Linked DNA regions of Homo sapiens. The protein of the gene in region 1 purifies or fractionates together with the protein of each later gene. This does not show direct contact. Each region holds a gene or a part of one and is shown in the gene's direction. Other genes may lie near its edges.

Region 1 (3,837 bases):
GCTCCTCTCAGAAAGAATTGAAGCTTTAGTTCTGGAAAGCATATCTGGTTTCTTGATGATGCTAAAAAATTCTTTTTTTTTTCTTATTAGAGGTATTAGGCTAATTATTATTTAATCCTTAAAATATTTCTTTTATTATTTTTTATTTTATTATTATTAGACTTTAAGTTTTAGGGTATATGTGCACAATGTGCAGGTTAGTTACATATGTATGCATGTGCCATGCTGGTGTGCTGTACCCATTAACTCGTCATTTAGCATTAGGTATATCTCCTAAAGCTATCCCTCCCCCTCCCCCCACCCCACAACAGTCCCCAGAGTGTGATGTTCCCCTTCCTGTGTCCATGTGTTCTCATTGTTCAATTCCCACCTATGAGTGAGAATATGCAGTGTTTGGTTTTTTGTTCTTGCGATAGTTTACTGAGAATGATGATTTCCAGTTTCATCCATGTCCCTACAGAGGACATGAACTCATCATTTTTTATGGCTGCATAGTATTCCATGGTGTATATGTGCCCCATTTTCTTAATCCAATCTATCATTGTTGGACATTTGGGTTGGTTCCAAGTCTTTGCTATTGTGAATAGTGCCGCAATAAAAAATTCTTAAAACATTTAGAAAGTATGCTGATGTGGCAGCCCAAAGTGGTATTAACTCTGATGGGCCATGGACCTAATGCTTTTATATTTAGAAGTATAATAATCATTGTAGAAATAGAAATATTTGACTCAAGTTAAGAAGGCAAATTAAAATTATGCCATTTTTGTTATGTTTATGACTATGTCATGCTTACTTAAATAAACCCATTATACCATCTACCTGATTAAAACAGAAAATTTTGTTTAAATAGGTAATATATTACAAGTAGCCAAATTTAATGTTGAGCCACTGACTAGATTCTAGGGAGAATGCTATGGATTCTGACTAAACAGACTGGTTTGAAAGTTGTATATCAGAATCACTTGGAATGCATATGCTAATTTATATAGATTTGTATACACTAAATTTTGCTGCTGTTAATAATTACGAAGAATTAGATGCCTGCATAAGCAAGAGACAAAACTAAATATAAGCTGACAAAATTTTAAAAGTCAATTAACCTTCATATTAAATGGCACCAGGCTAGATTTTAAATGGTCTCAATAATCAAGTGGAATAGTTTTTTTACTGATTAGTTTCACCTTAATAATTTAGACTCAGATAAAGTGAAAAACTAGGATTAGCTCAAATAGTGACATGGCACTTAAACAACAGGTTAGGTGAAGCCATTCTGCAGAGTAGTTAAGAATGAGTACAGACAGACCTCAGTTAAGAGTCTAGATTCTACCACTAACTAGCTACATAACCATGCCCAGATTACTTCACAGTACTCCTTGTAAGGATCAAGTGAGCTATTACAGATAAAATTCTTAGGCTAGTATGGGGCATAGAGAAAGCACTTAGTAAATATTAGACACTGTTAGGAACCATGTAAAAGCCTTTGGGTTTCTCCTAAAGAAAGTAATTTTTCTCTATTGAAGAGAAAAGGAAGCATGGAAAGGGTGAAGCAATCCTAACGTGTGCTGTAAATAGAGATATCTATATTCACATGTATAGATATAAAAATATACCTCACTCATGTATGTATTAATATATACACACAAAAAATGCCTAGTTTGTCTTGTTTGTATATTTTACTGAGAGAAATAATTTTTAGTAAATTTAATGTACTAGTAATATAATACTGTAAGTGTCTCTGCATACCTTTACTAAGCATATGTAGAAGTCATAATCTAGATTTTTTTATTTTTAAAGTCTTATTTGACATTAATTTAAATAAGAGGAATATACTTTGAAGAATAATTTATTTGAATTTTTATCATTATATGACTGTTTTATTATGCCAACTTAAAAGATGTTCTTTGTCTTCTAGGTAAATTGGTGGATTTAACTGGAGAATATAAATACATGTACATGTCCTGTGGGGCTATTGTGGTAGCAGCAAGCGTGTGGCTGCTCATTGGCAATGCTATCAACTATAGATTGCTTGCAAAGGAAAGGAAGGAGGAAAATGCAAGGCAGAAGACCAGAGAATCTGAACCCTTGAGCAAATCTAAACATTCGGAAGATGTTAACGTCAAAGTTTCAAATGCACAGAGTGTAACCTCAGAAAGAGAAACTAACATTTAACAAGAATCACATCTCTGATTTCAGTGTTTATGACTTTATCTAGGAGTTTGTTTTTCATTTTGTTTTTTTAAAGTATTAGAAAAGGTTTTAGCTGAAATGAGGAGTCACAATTAAGGATGGAGGTGATATTTTCCTCAATGGCAAATTTTAAATTAGTTTTTAAAAACTTACTTATTTGGGTAGTTAAATTTTGAGATTATGCATAGAAAGAATCCATGCTATAGGTTTATTTCCATACCTGACTCTGGGTGTGGTGGTTAAAATACTAATTTTAAAGTCTTCCAGTGACTTTCGGTCTTGGTTATATGGAGAATTCTGAATCCCAAACCCCTGGTTTAAGTAGGTAGAAGGAGGATGCCTAATCCTACAAAGTGACCCTTTATACATTTCATTTTTTATTTGATATTAAAGTATGAGATAGAGTTGAGAGACAATTAATTATCCCCTCTTACACACAAACACACATACTCCCACATACTTACCCACATGTACACAGAGTATCTGGAGAATAAAACCCAAATTCAAAAAAAAAAATGATAATTTATTTTTAAGGTAAAAATAATCCATGAAGATAAAAGAAACATATGTCTGCGTGCTACTTTACAATGTTGGTTTTAAAGATAAGCACATGGGTAAAAATGAGGGTGATCCTTATTCAAAAATAACATCTGACTACTATAAAAATATTTGCATATATAAGTTTGACAAAGAAAAGAAAATCAATGTTAAACCATTAAATCTGAGCACTGTTAGACTTGATTAATCCATGCACATGATTTTTTTTGAGTAGGGAGCATTAGTACCTGGTGCTAGAGAATAGAACCCTCAAATAATTTTTAGAATTCTTACCTAATATGTAAAAGTCTGCATGACTCTTAACAATGAGTCACATCCATTGATTTTACAGGGATTTTAGTTCGTAATCCAGAAAGTAATAATCAGGGATTTTATTTTAATCAGGCATCAATCCAGATTCACTGTTATACTGAAATATCAAAGTAAAATCCTAGTTGGCAGGATTGTAAGTAGACCGAATTCTAATTTTTCCCAACACATAGTGGTAATTGGAGGTTACTGTTATGAATACTCCATCTGACTACGACTAAGAGAGTGAGGGGTGGTTTTAATGAACCCTCTAAGCTCTCTCAGTTCCTTCCCTTCCACAAAATGCAAGAGCAAAAGCAAACTACAAACAGGCCTTGTGCTCAACCACTGGAAATGCCTCCTGGGATAAGAATGGCAGCACTTGAAAATTCTGCCCTCTACTGATGAGACTTCCTGCTGCCTTTGGACATAACTAAGCCAGGAAACTTTAAAAGCCTTCTAGAAATAGAGGCACTGTATGACTTGCAATCGTAGGTATAGTTTATAACCTGATAGCAAAAAACTTGAAATATTGCAGCCCAGTTTAATTCAGCACTTTCCCATTTTCATAACTATGTGAAAACATCTGGGAATTTGAATCACTCCTGAATACAGAGGCATATTCTTTTTAAACTATAAATACCATTTTGAGTGAGAAAGTACTTTTAAACAAGAAAGAAATTGTACATTATGACTAAAGTTATAAATACAATATTTATATCTATAAATCTGAAGTTTAACATGATTAATTTAAAAAGTATTTAGTGCTTGACAAAGTAGTGTCACTCTTAAGATGTCAAAGGG
Region 2 (3,837 bases), on another chromosome or scaffold:
CCCTTCCCCATGTTGCCCAGGTGTGCCTACATCTTGGACTGTTTTGTTTTGTTTTGGTTTGGTTTTTTTTCTGGGACAGAGTCTGTCACTGTCACCCAGGCTGGTGTGCAGTGGCGTGATCTCCGCTCGCTGCAACCTCTGCCTCCCAGGTTCAAGCAATTTTCCTGCCTAAGCCTCTGGCCGCCACCACACCTGGCTAATTTTTTTTTTTTTTTTTTTTTTTTTGTATTTTTAGTAGAGACAGGGTTTCACCATGTTGGCCAGTCTGGTCTCGAACTCCTGACCTCATGATCCGCCTGCCTCGGCCTCCCAAAGTGCTGGGATTACAGGCGTGAGCCACTGCACCCCACCACATTTTGGACTTTTTTTTTTTTTTTTTGAGACGGAGTCTCGCTCTGTCATCAGGCTACAATGCAGTGGCATGATCTCGGCTCTCTGCAACCTCCACCTCACAGGTTCAAGCGATTCTCCTACCTCAGCCTTCCGAGTAGCTGGTACTACAGGCGTGTGCTACCATGCCCAGCTAATTTTTTATATTTTTTTAGTAGAGACAGGGTTTCACCATGTTGGCCAGGATGGTCTCGATCTCTTGACCTTGTGATCAGCCCGCCTCGGCCTCCCAAAGTGCCGAGATTACAGGCGTGAGCCACCGTGCCCAGCCCACATCTTGGACTCTTAACAAAAATGCTGAAAAACCTGCACTGTGCTTGGCATAGGGCTGTGCTAGAGATTCAAAGATGAATCATGCAGGGTTCCAATCGTCAGCTCACCACCGAGTCCTGGAGTTACGCCACCACAAAGGCAGACAGTCTGGGGAGTAGGGGGTGTTGGCTGCTGACCCAGGACACCCAGCCCAGGATGGGGGCTGGCGCTGGTCCTGGACTGGCAATGAGCAGGTTCATAGGCAGGAAGTGGCGGAGAGCACAAAGTGGTGGCTGGAGACAGGCAGGATGGGGGCTCAAGGAGGTCGTATGCCCTGTTCCCCTAGAGCCCATGTGTGGACTGATCTTGCGGAGATTTTTGGCCCTGGTGTTCTACATACCTGTCTTCCTGTTTCACCAGGGCCCTTGTTTGCTAGTTACTGTCCCCGGCCCATGAGGTGCTGGCCTCCAGCAGAACCTCTCAGCCAGTCTCAGGGGCTTCCTGTGTGTCTCCCTGAGGCCGGCCCTTTTGGCTTCCTTCCCCCAGGGACTGCTGTGCGCCACTGTGATGAGCACAGGGGGTGGCTCCCCCCAAACCTCTTCAACTGCACGTCCATCACCTTCTCAGAACTGAAGGGCTTCGTAAGTGAACCCCCTCATCTCCATCTTTTCCCTGTCCTTCGTCCTGAGTCTCACTTGCCCCCACTCCCATCTTTGAGAACGGGGCTTCTGGAATTCCAGCCTGTGTGTTCCTGGGCTCCCAGCTGGAGAGGCCGTCTCTCACCTCCTGAGGTCCTTTTGCTCCAGAGTTCCTGCCCTCACTCCTGCTCCTCCGCTCCGTCCTGTCTAGGCTGAGCGGCTACAGCGGAATGAGTCAGGCCTAGACTCAGGGCGCTCCCAGCAGCTAGCCCTGCTCCTGCGCAACGCCACGCAGCACACAGCTGGCTACTTCGGCAGCGACGTCAAGGTGGCCTACCAGCTGGCCACGCGGCTGCTGGCCCACGAGAGCACCCAGCGGGGCTTTGGGCTGTCTGCCACACAGGACGTGCACTTCACTGAGGTGGGGCTTGGAGGATGCAGGGCTGGCTGGTTAGATAGGGGTCATGGTGAGTGAGCCTGCTCATGGCAACCTGGGGGGCAGAGGGGGCCCTCCCATCCCACCTACAAGGAGCTCCCTGCTGGCAGGAGGCCTCCATGAAACCCTGTGACCCCTGGCCCAGCCCTCTTCCCAACCCTTCTCATAGTAACATATGTGTGTTGGGGCATGGTCTGACCCAGAGCAGAGGCCTGCCTGTGGTACCATGGGCTGGGAGGAAGCAGTATCTCAGGACATGTGTGTGGGTCCAGGCACAGGGCTGGGAAGCTCTTATGTAGAGAATGAGGAGGAGGGCTTAGGGGCAGAGCATCCAGTGACCTGAGTGGGCAGTGCGGTCCAGGAGCATTTCAGGGGAGGCAACAGTGAGCACAGAGGGAGGGGCCTGGTGGGGAGCAGGGACTGGCCCGGGCACAGGCCGGGGCTCCATGGTGGGGATGTCAGGTGTGGGTTGTGAGCACACCCACCGTGACCTTGCCCACCCCAGAATCTGCTGCGGGTGGGCAGCGCCCTCCTGGACACAGCCAACAAGCGGCACTGGGAGCTGATCCAGCAGACAGAGGGTGGCACCGCCTGGCTGCTCCAGCACTATGAGGCCTACGCCAGTGCCCTGGCCCAGAACATGCGGCACACCTACCTAAGCCCCTTCACCATCGTCACGCCCAACATTGGTAAGGCTGGTGCCTGGGTTGGGGAGGGGTTTGTGGAGGGAGTCCCCGACAAGAGCGGCTGTGCTGGGGTCCTGCCTGCCTCACAGGTCCGATCTGTGACCATCCCCTTCCTTAGTCATCTCCGTAGTGCGCTTGGACAAAGGGAACTTTGCTGGGGCCAAGCTGCCCCGCTACGAGGCCCTGCGTGGGGAGCAGCCCCCGGACCTTGAGACAACAGTCATTCTGCCTGAGTCTGTCTTCAGAGGTCAGTGGTGGCCATGGATTGAGTTGGGAGCTGGACCCCAGTGTCTGTGCAGACTCCACAGAGAGCAGGGCCCAGCTAAGTGTGACAGTGTCCCCTCCCAGAGACGCCCCCCGTGGTCAGGCCCGCAGGCCCCGGAGAGGCCCAGGAGCCAGAGGAGCTGGCACGGCGACAGCGACGGCACCCGGAGCTGAGCCAGGGTGAGGCTGTGGCCAGCGTCATCATCTACCGCACCCTGGCCGGGCTACTGCCTCATAACTATGACCCTGACAAGCGCAGCTTGAGGTCAGCAGCTAGGGGACAGGTGTGGGTAGGGGTATGGGTCGGGCGGTGAGTGCTGAGGCATGGAGGGGGTCGGGGGCGTCTCCCCAGTCATGTGACTGCCGTGGTGACTGTGCACCTGACTGCCCCACATCAGAGTCCCCAAACGCCCGATCATCAACACACCCGTGGTGAGCATCAGCGTCCATGATGATGAGGAGCTTCTGCCCCGGGCCCTGGACAAACCCGTCACGGTGCAGTTCCGCCTGCTGGAGACAGAGGAGCGGACCAAGCCCATCTGTGTCTTCTGGAACCATTCAATCCTGTGAGCCTGCACTGCCCTCGCCCCCTCAGGCTTCGGGCTGAAAGTCCAGGCCCCTGCATGCCTCACCCTCCTTGTCTCCCTGACCCTGCCTTCCTCACACAGGGTCAGTGGCACAGGTGGCTGGTCGGCCAGAGGCTGTGAAGTCGTCTTCCGCAATGAGAGCCACGTCAGCTGCCAGTGCAACCACATGACGAGCTTCGCTGTGCTCATGGACGTTTCTCGGCGGGAGGTCGGGCCCACAGGGGCAGCTGCAGAGCCGTGGGTGGGCACCCAGGGCACGGGGCTGGGTGCTCAGGTCCTGCCCTTCCTAATTCCCTGGCCCCCTGCCACCTACTCTGCAGAATGGGGAGATCCTGCCACTGAAGACACTGACATACGTGGCTCTAGGTGTCACCTTGGCTGCCCTTCTGCTCACCTTCTTCTTCCTCACTCTCTTGCGTATCCTGCGCTCCAACCAACACGGCATCCGACGTAACCTGACAGCTGCCCTGGGCCTGGCTCAGCTGGTCTTCCTCCTGGGAATCAACCAGGCTGACCTCCCTGTAAGATGCTCCTACTGCCCAGAAACTGTCCCCACCTTCTCAGGCCGCCTCCCCAGCCCCCAC
Region 3 (3,358 bases), on another chromosome or scaffold:
AGAAAGAATCTGTATTCTGTATGTTTGGGAGACAAAGGCCATCAGGATACGTGACAATGTGAATAATGCTTGTAAAACTTACGAGGTATAGCCATAGCCAAAGCAGGACTTGAAAGCAATATGTCACCTGCAGTGCTCTTCACAGGAAATAAGAGGGACTAATAACACCTTGAGAAAAAGGAAAAGATAAGAGTAACATGAAAGAAGAAAAGTAGAAAGGAGTTAATAAAGATAAAAGCACAAAATGCTGAAATAGTCTAAATAGTAGAACCCAAATTTAGGGCTGCAGGTATCCTGTCTCTGCAGGTGTTCTCTTCTTCACGCAAGTACTGTTCAATCCTGCAGAGTAAGGAGAGGATGGGAAAGTTTTTCACAGGCACCTCGGAGCCCTCCTAACTCTGTGACCCCACATAGGTAAAGTGTGGCCCAATAATAAGAGGGAGCCAGGCTTACCTGACTAGGGCAACTCACAGAGCTCATTGTCCCGAGAGAGAGACGTGGGCAAGAATACAGATGTCCCCACGACAGTTTTACTAGATTCATTCATGATACACAAACCAGATGAGCCATTGAGAGGAATTTGGAGGAGCCCTGTTGGGCCCCTCACCTCCAAAACTAATACTCAAGACTTACTCTGACCTGCTGTACTTTGGGTCTCCAGAGCCCAGAAGCAAGCAGTCCTCTGTGGCAGTCAGGCGTATTTGCAAAATAGAGTTGTAGGTCAGTTGATCGAAGCTGGGAATGCCGTTTCCCAAAAACAGTCAAGTTGGAAAAGACTGGAAGGATCATTTAGTGTAGTGCTGTACCCCTACCTCCAGTCTGGTGACTGTGCCCCTCTTCTCTAACAGTCTCAACAGATGATTCTCTAGCTCAGGGGTCAGCAAACTGCAGCCCGCGTGGGCCAGCAGGCCTGTTTCTATAAATTTTTATTGGAACACAGCCATGGTCATTCATTAACATATCTGTCCATGGCTGCTTTCACACTACAATGGCAGAGTTGAGTAGTTGCGACAGGGACCATATGGCCTGCAGAAACTAAAATATTTACAATCTGGCCCTCTAAGTAAAAGATTGCAGACCCCTGCTCTACTACATCCAGCAACAGAGAAGACACTCCCTCCTAACATTCCCATTCTTTCTGGACAGCTCCTGTCATTATCAAGGTCTTGATTCACACTGCAGTCTCCCTTGCTGTGACTTCCATCTTTAGACCTTAGTCTTAATTCTGGGATCATCTAGAACAAATCTAATCTCCCTCCTCTATAGCCCATATTAATCATAACTCTCATAAGTGGCAAGTGACTAAAACTCTATCAAAGTAGCTTAAGCAAAAAAAAAGGGAAAAAAAGTAGCTTAAGCAAAAAGAATGTATTTGCTTATATAACTGGAAAGACTAAGAAATTGGAGTTCTAGCCTCAACCATGCTTAGATCCAGAGTCTCAAAAATATCAGGGCTCAATCCCAGCACTTCGGGAGGCCGAGGAGGGTGGATCACAGGGTCAAGAGATCGAGTCCATCCTGGCCAACATGGTGAAACCCTGTCTCTACTGAGATACAAAAAATTAGCCGGGCGTGGTGGTGCACGTCTGTAGTCCCAGCTACTCAGGAGGCTGAGGCAAGGGAATCGCTTGAACCCTGGAGGCAGAGGTTGCAGTGAGCCAAGATCGTGCCACTGCACTCTAGCCTGGGTGACAGAGCAAGACTCCATCTCAAAAAAAAAAAAAAAAAAAAAAAATATATATATATATATATATATATATATGTATGTATGTATGTATGTACACATACATACCAGGGCTCTGTGCCCACGCCTTAGCCCTGTGTATCTTTTTTTGGCCTCAGTCTGCAGGCAAGATCTTTTCACAAAGTAGAAAGATGGCCAGTGGCAGCCCTAGAGTCTACTCTTTCCAGCTTTGCAGCCCTAGAGCTAAAAGACTGTCTTTCGTCTACCATGATACGTCAGCCAGTGAAGACACGCTGCTCTGCTCGGGTGACATGCCCAGTGCTCACTGTTTTCCAGGTCCAATAGCATCACATATTCAGACAGACTGGCTTAGGTCTTGTGCTAGGAATTTTTTTTTTTTTTTTTTTTTTTGAGATGGAGACTCGCTCTGTTGCCCAGGCTGGAGTGCAGTGGTGCGATCTTGGCTCGCTGCAGCCTCTGCCTCCCGGGTTCCAGCGATTCTCCTGCCTCTGCCTCCTGAGTAGCTGGGGTTACAGGTGCACACCACCACGCCCGGCTAATTTTGTGTTTTTAGCAGAGACAGGGTTTCTCCATGTTGGCCAGGCTGGTCTTGAACTCCTGACCTCATGTGATCCGTCTGCCTCAGCCTCCCAAAGTGCTGGGATTACAGGCGTGAGCCACCGCACCTGGCCTATTTTGTGCTAGGATTGATGGCCCCAACAGGACCAGGTGTTTTGAGTGTTCCTCAAAACATCTGGAATATGGAAGACAAGGAACACGGTTAAACAAAACTAGAGATCACATCACAGCCTCTTGTCCTTCCTCCCTTCTGCTCCAGTCTTCTTGCTCTGCTCAAAAAATCTCTTCCTCCAGCCCCAATGCCTTATGTATAAAATGAGGAACTTTCTGGCTCTGCCTCTTTGCCTCGTCCCTTGCCTCCTTTTACCACGGTTCTGCTCCTTGTCCCTCCCCCACCCCTCCCCCGACCACCAGCCACAAGAATGCATATAACAAGAGATGGAGGCTGGGTGCATATGGTTCACACCTATAATCCTAGCGTTTTCAGAGGTGGGAGGATAACTTAAGTCCAAGTGTCTGAGACCAGCCTGGGCAATAGAGCAAGACACCATTGCTAGAAAAAATATTAGCTGGGTGTGGTGGCACACACCTATAGTCTGAGCTACTTGGGAGGCTGAGGCAGGAGGATCCCTTGAGCCCAGGAGGGTGAGGCTGTAGTGAGCTGTGATCATGCCACTGTGCTCTAGTCTGGGTAATAGAGGGAGACCCTGTCCCTTTAAAGAAAAGGGGTTAGGGGAGAGATGCGGGGCTGAGCCTGAAAACATGGCCTTCACCCCTTAGGCTTAGGAGAGGGCTTCAAATGGTGACCTATTTTGTTTTCTTTGTTTCTTTACTGTTTTCTTCTGGGCTACTGGCATTCTGTGACCATGTGTCTGCCTGTGAGTCCTGGGACAGGCCCTACTCAGGCCCTGGGCATATCTTGATACCAAGGTTCCACATTAGTTCCCTTTGTAAATAACACAGATCCCCAGCATCTCTGCCCAGCCTCTAAACTCTACCCCAGTTAAAAAGGAGTCCAAAATGCTCCAAGATCAAAATCTCTGTGAGATGCTAACAAAAGTGACAAGCATTCTGGGGAAGAGAGGAATGAATGGA
Region 4 (3,837 bases), on another chromosome or scaffold:
CGAGTGCACGGGCGCATGCCGCCGTCCTAAGGGGCATGCTACACCAGGGCATGGCTGCCCTGAGCATCTGTGGGTCTGGGGGCCAGGGGACCTGGGGGACAACAAAAGCTACAAAACTCCCTGTTTAGGAGCTTCCTGCGGGCATCTCATGCTGGCATTCACCCCAAGACCACTTTGAGAAGTTGTGCCAGGCAGCTGAGCTCAGTCTGCCTGGGGCTGCATCGTGAAAGGCCAGCCTTGCAGTGGGGGTTCATTGTCATTAAGCCCCAATGAGTCAGGCATCATGTGGACGTGGGGCACACGGTGGACAGAGATGTCATCCCAGTCGCTTTGGGCATGGTGGATCTGTGGGTGGGGGGTGAGGTTGGGAGCCGGTAGAGGGGAGACTGAGGCCATGTAACGTGGAAGGGGAAGCTCCCAGAGCTGGACCCAGCCAGGCCTCCTGGGCAACCATCTCCATGCTGCCTGCAGGCCTCTTCTCATTCCAGAAAGCACAGTTACATAAACCTTCCAGCTGCCCTCTTATTTTCCCCACAGACTCGACCTTCCGTGCCCCAGAGGCTGGTGGGGGAACCCCGTCTGTGGACCCTGCCACTGTGCCGTCAGCAAAGGCTTTGATCCCGACTGTAATAAGACCAACGGCCAGTGCCAATGCAAGGTGAGGCCCCGCCCCCATGATCCCTGCATGCTGTGTTTGCTCACACACATGCACAGCTGCCCCTAAATACACACACGCCTTCACATACCCTGTCGGTACACACTCACACCCCTGCACACACACCTGTGCCCACTCACATCACATTTGTGTACAGATGTGGTTTTTGGTTTCCTTGCTGCTCCCCCGTGCTCTGTGAATACTCCATGGCTGCTTTCCACGTGTAAACTACGGGTTCAGCCCTGCCAGCCCCCGCCCGTGGAACAGGAATCCCTGCCTCCTCCCGGCCTACTGCCCATGGCTGTGGGAAGCCCACCCGTTTCTGAGGGCTGGCTCATCTATGGCACCACCCCGGCCCTCCTGGCCTCCTGGTTGGCCATTTTCCTGGTCTTTTTTTTTTTTTTTTTGAGACAGAGTCTCGCTGTGTCGCCCAGGCTGGAGTGCAGTGGTGCGATCTCGGCTCACTGCAGCCTCCGCCTCCCGGGTTCCAGCAATTCTTCTGCCTCAGCCTCCTGAGTAGCTGGGATTATAGGCGCCCACCACCATGCCCAGCTAATTTTTGTATTTTTAGTAGAGACAGGATTTCACCATGTTGGCCAGGCTGGTCTTGAACTCCTGACCTCAGGTGATCCGCCCGCCTCAGCCTCCCAGAGTGCTGGGATTACAGGCGTGAGCCACCGTGCCTGGCCATTTTCCTGGTCTTTACCAAGCTGGTGTCCCATGATGACAGCAGTTTTAAAATAGAAAGTGTCACTAAGTGCGTTATGCCCCACGCCTGTCCAGGGCGGTCAGTCCTAACCTGCATGCAGCACGGAGCTCACATCTCGTGTCTCCAGAAATGCACACGCGTTCTCAGTGCAGACTCTAGGGACCCCTCCCCAGCCCTCTCAGGATACATCACCTCCTTCAGGATCTTCGTGTACACCACGGCCATGGCGCTCACAGTGACTTGAAACCCAAATGTTAGGTCTGAGGGTAACAGGAGCCTGGGCGAGGGACGTGAGCTTCCTGCAGATGCGGCTGGCCCTAGGAGGGAAGCTGGTACCAGGGCACCCTTGGATGCCATCTCGTGATGTCAGTAGTGTCCCCCCCCAGTGCCTGCGGTGGTTCCAACAGCAAATGGGACTTGTGTCCTGAAAGGCTCAAATTAAACAGCTCTCCTGGGTCAGGGTCGGTCCACACGTCACCAGATGGCGGTGGTGGCATAGTGGGTGGCAGAGCAGAGAGAACATGGGGAGTGCATTGGCGAAAACTTGCCTACGATTTTTTTCTCATCCAAAGTTATAGGCAGGGCGTGGTGGCTCATGCCTGTAATCACAGCTACTCTGGAGGCCGAGGCAGGAGGGATTACTTGAGCCCAGGAGTTCAAGACCAGCCTGGGCAACATAGTGAGACTCCCATTTCTACAAAAAATAAAAACATTAGCTGAGCGTGCTGATGCTTGCCTGTGATCCCAGCTACTCAGGAGGCTGAGGTGGGAGGATCACTTGAGCCCTGGAGGTTGAGGCTGCAGTGAGCTGTGACTGCACCACTGCACTCCAGACTGGGCAACACAGTGAGACCCCATCTCAAAAAAATAAAAAAACAAAGTTATACAAAATGTAATAAAAACCCATAAAGATCGCAGTCACCCCATGCGCCTCCCAGCTGTGATTGTTAGTGTTTTAGCATCTCTTCTGGGCCTGTCGTTCACTGTCATTTTACACACAGTCGGAGTCCCCACCTGACACACAGGTCTGAACGTTGCTCACGAGTCTGCCCAAGTCACAGCCTGGTCACAGCCTGCCCCGTTTTCCGGGGCGGGGTTGAGGGGGTGCTACTTGGGCCTGGGGAGTCCCGGTGACCAGCCCAGGCAATGTAGCTGGTAAACGGCAAGGGTCAGGCATGAACCCAGGACTTTCTGAACCCGAAGTACAAGCTCTTGATTGTCACCCTGACCCACCCAATGGTGGACGTTCAGGTGGCTTCTAATTTTTCAAAACAACTTTAAAAAAACGCCCAAGGGCTATCCCCATACGTAAGCCTCCATTTGGATCTCTGATTCTTTTTAGGACAAATACGAAGGTGCCCACTGTTGAGACTTGTTAAGACATGAGGGAGGGCGTGCTTCCCGGAAGAACTGCTCTCCTGGGTCCGGCCTTGTGGGGCCTTGGGAGGCAGCCCCCGTTGGGTGTGGGATGTGGGCAGAGGGTAGCCATGAGGGGTGGGATGGCTGGCGGCCAACACACACACCCGGGTGGGAGTCTGGACGTCGCTCGGGAAACACGCTGCAAGGTAGGGCCTCTCCCGGGCATCTGAAGTCACAGGCCCTGCCTCTGGCTTTTGCAGGAGAATTACTACAAGCTCCTAGCCCAGGACACCTGTCTGCCCTGCGACTGCTTCCCCCATGGCTCCCACAGCCGCACTTGCGACATGGCCACCGGGCAGTGTGCCTGCAAGCCCGGCGTCATCGGCCGCCAGTGCAACCGCTGCGACAACCCGTTTGCCGAGGTCACCACGCTCGGCTGTGAAGGTCCGCGTTGCCCCTCGACACCCTGCAGGTTACAGCGCGGGGACAGGCTGCTGCACTGGCGTGCACGTGTGTGCATGCACGCTGGGTGTTTGGGGGACCCTGGGCTCCCTCGTGTTCTGAGTTCTCTTGACCTTCTAGAAACCTGGTTCTGCGTGAGGGGGTGTGGGTCAGAGCCTGGTCACCCCTCTCCAGCTCTGACATGGATGGGGGCAGGGGAGATGCTAGGGTTCGGTTCTTGGTGGGAGCAGGGCCTCCTGCAGGGAGGCGCATGCAGACAGTGGTGCCTGTTTGTGGTCGTGGGTGTGGCGTGCCCCGCTGAGCAGACTTCTCTCTTCTCTACCCCAGTGATCTACAATGGCTGTCCCAAAGCATTTGAGGCCGGCATCTGGTGGCCACAGACCAAGTTCGGGCAGCCGGCTGCGGTGCCATGCCCTAAGGGATCCGTTGGTGAGTCGCCGTGGCCTGTGTGTAGGGAACTGAGGCAGGCGTCCTTGTGGGAGGAGCCAGTCGAGATGTGGGGACTCATGGAATGTTTCGTGTTGAAAAAATATCCGCAGGCAAAGTGCTGGGGAGAAATCCGATCGCCTTTTCCCTACCAGGAAATACACAAAGCAGGCAGAGGGCGCAACAGAAACATGAACAGTGCAGCGCGTGTGGGGACGCCCGCCAG

What was found. Proteins that work in one complex are often made in the same cells at the same time.
Region 2: the proteins of SLC16A7 (region 1) and CELSR2 purify together in Homo sapiens (affinity purification with mass spectrometry; one large-scale study listed by BioGRID and IntAct). This does not show direct contact.
Region 3: the proteins of SLC16A7 (region 1) and TM9SF4 purify together in Homo sapiens (affinity purification with mass spectrometry; one large-scale study listed by BioGRID and IntAct). This does not show direct contact.
Region 4: the proteins of SLC16A7 (region 1) and CELSR1 purify together in Homo sapiens (affinity purification with mass spectrometry; one large-scale study listed by BioGRID and IntAct). This does not show direct contact.

The regions. Positions count from the first base shown.
Region 1 is NC_000012.12:59,777,511-59,781,347, forward strand, and holds part of SLC16A7 (monocarboxylate transporter 2), read left to right. Parts: intron 1-1,912; coding exon 1,913-2,169; 3' UTR 2,170-3,837. UniProt on the Homo sapiens protein: Proton-coupled monocarboxylate symporter. Catalyzes the rapid transport across the plasma membrane of monocarboxylates such as L-lactate, pyruvate and ketone bodies, acetoacetate, beta-hydroxybutyrate and acetate.
Region 2 is NC_000001.11:109,266,360-109,270,196, forward strand, and holds part of CELSR2 (cadherin EGF LAG seven-pass G-type receptor 2 precursor), read left to right. Parts: intron 1-1,188; coding exon 1,189-1,283; intron 1,284-1,491; coding exon 1,492-1,701; intron 1,702-2,221; coding exon 2,222-2,405; intron 2,406-2,520; coding exon 2,521-2,649; intron 2,650-2,750; coding exon 2,751-2,931; intron 2,932-3,064; coding exon 3,065-3,232; intron 3,233-3,334; coding exon 3,335-3,461; intron 3,462-3,573; coding exon 3,574-3,774; intron 3,775-3,837. UniProt on the Homo sapiens protein: Receptor that may have an important role in cell/cell signaling during nervous system formation.
Region 3 is NC_000020.11:32,161,535-32,164,892, forward strand, and holds part of TM9SF4 (transmembrane 9 superfamily member 4 isoform 1 precursor), read left to right. Parts: intron 1-3,358. UniProt on the Homo sapiens protein: Associates with proteins harboring glycine-rich transmembrane domains and ensures their efficient localization to the cell surface.
Region 4 is NC_000022.11:46,390,963-46,394,799, reverse strand, and holds part of CELSR1 (cadherin EGF LAG seven-pass G-type receptor 1 isoform 1 precursor), read left to right. Parts: intron 1-537; coding exon 538-658; intron 659-2,983; coding exon 2,984-3,167; intron 3,168-3,512; coding exon 3,513-3,614; intron 3,615-3,724; coding exon of another isoform or gene 3,725-3,837. UniProt on the Homo sapiens protein: Receptor that may have an important role in cell/cell signaling during nervous system formation.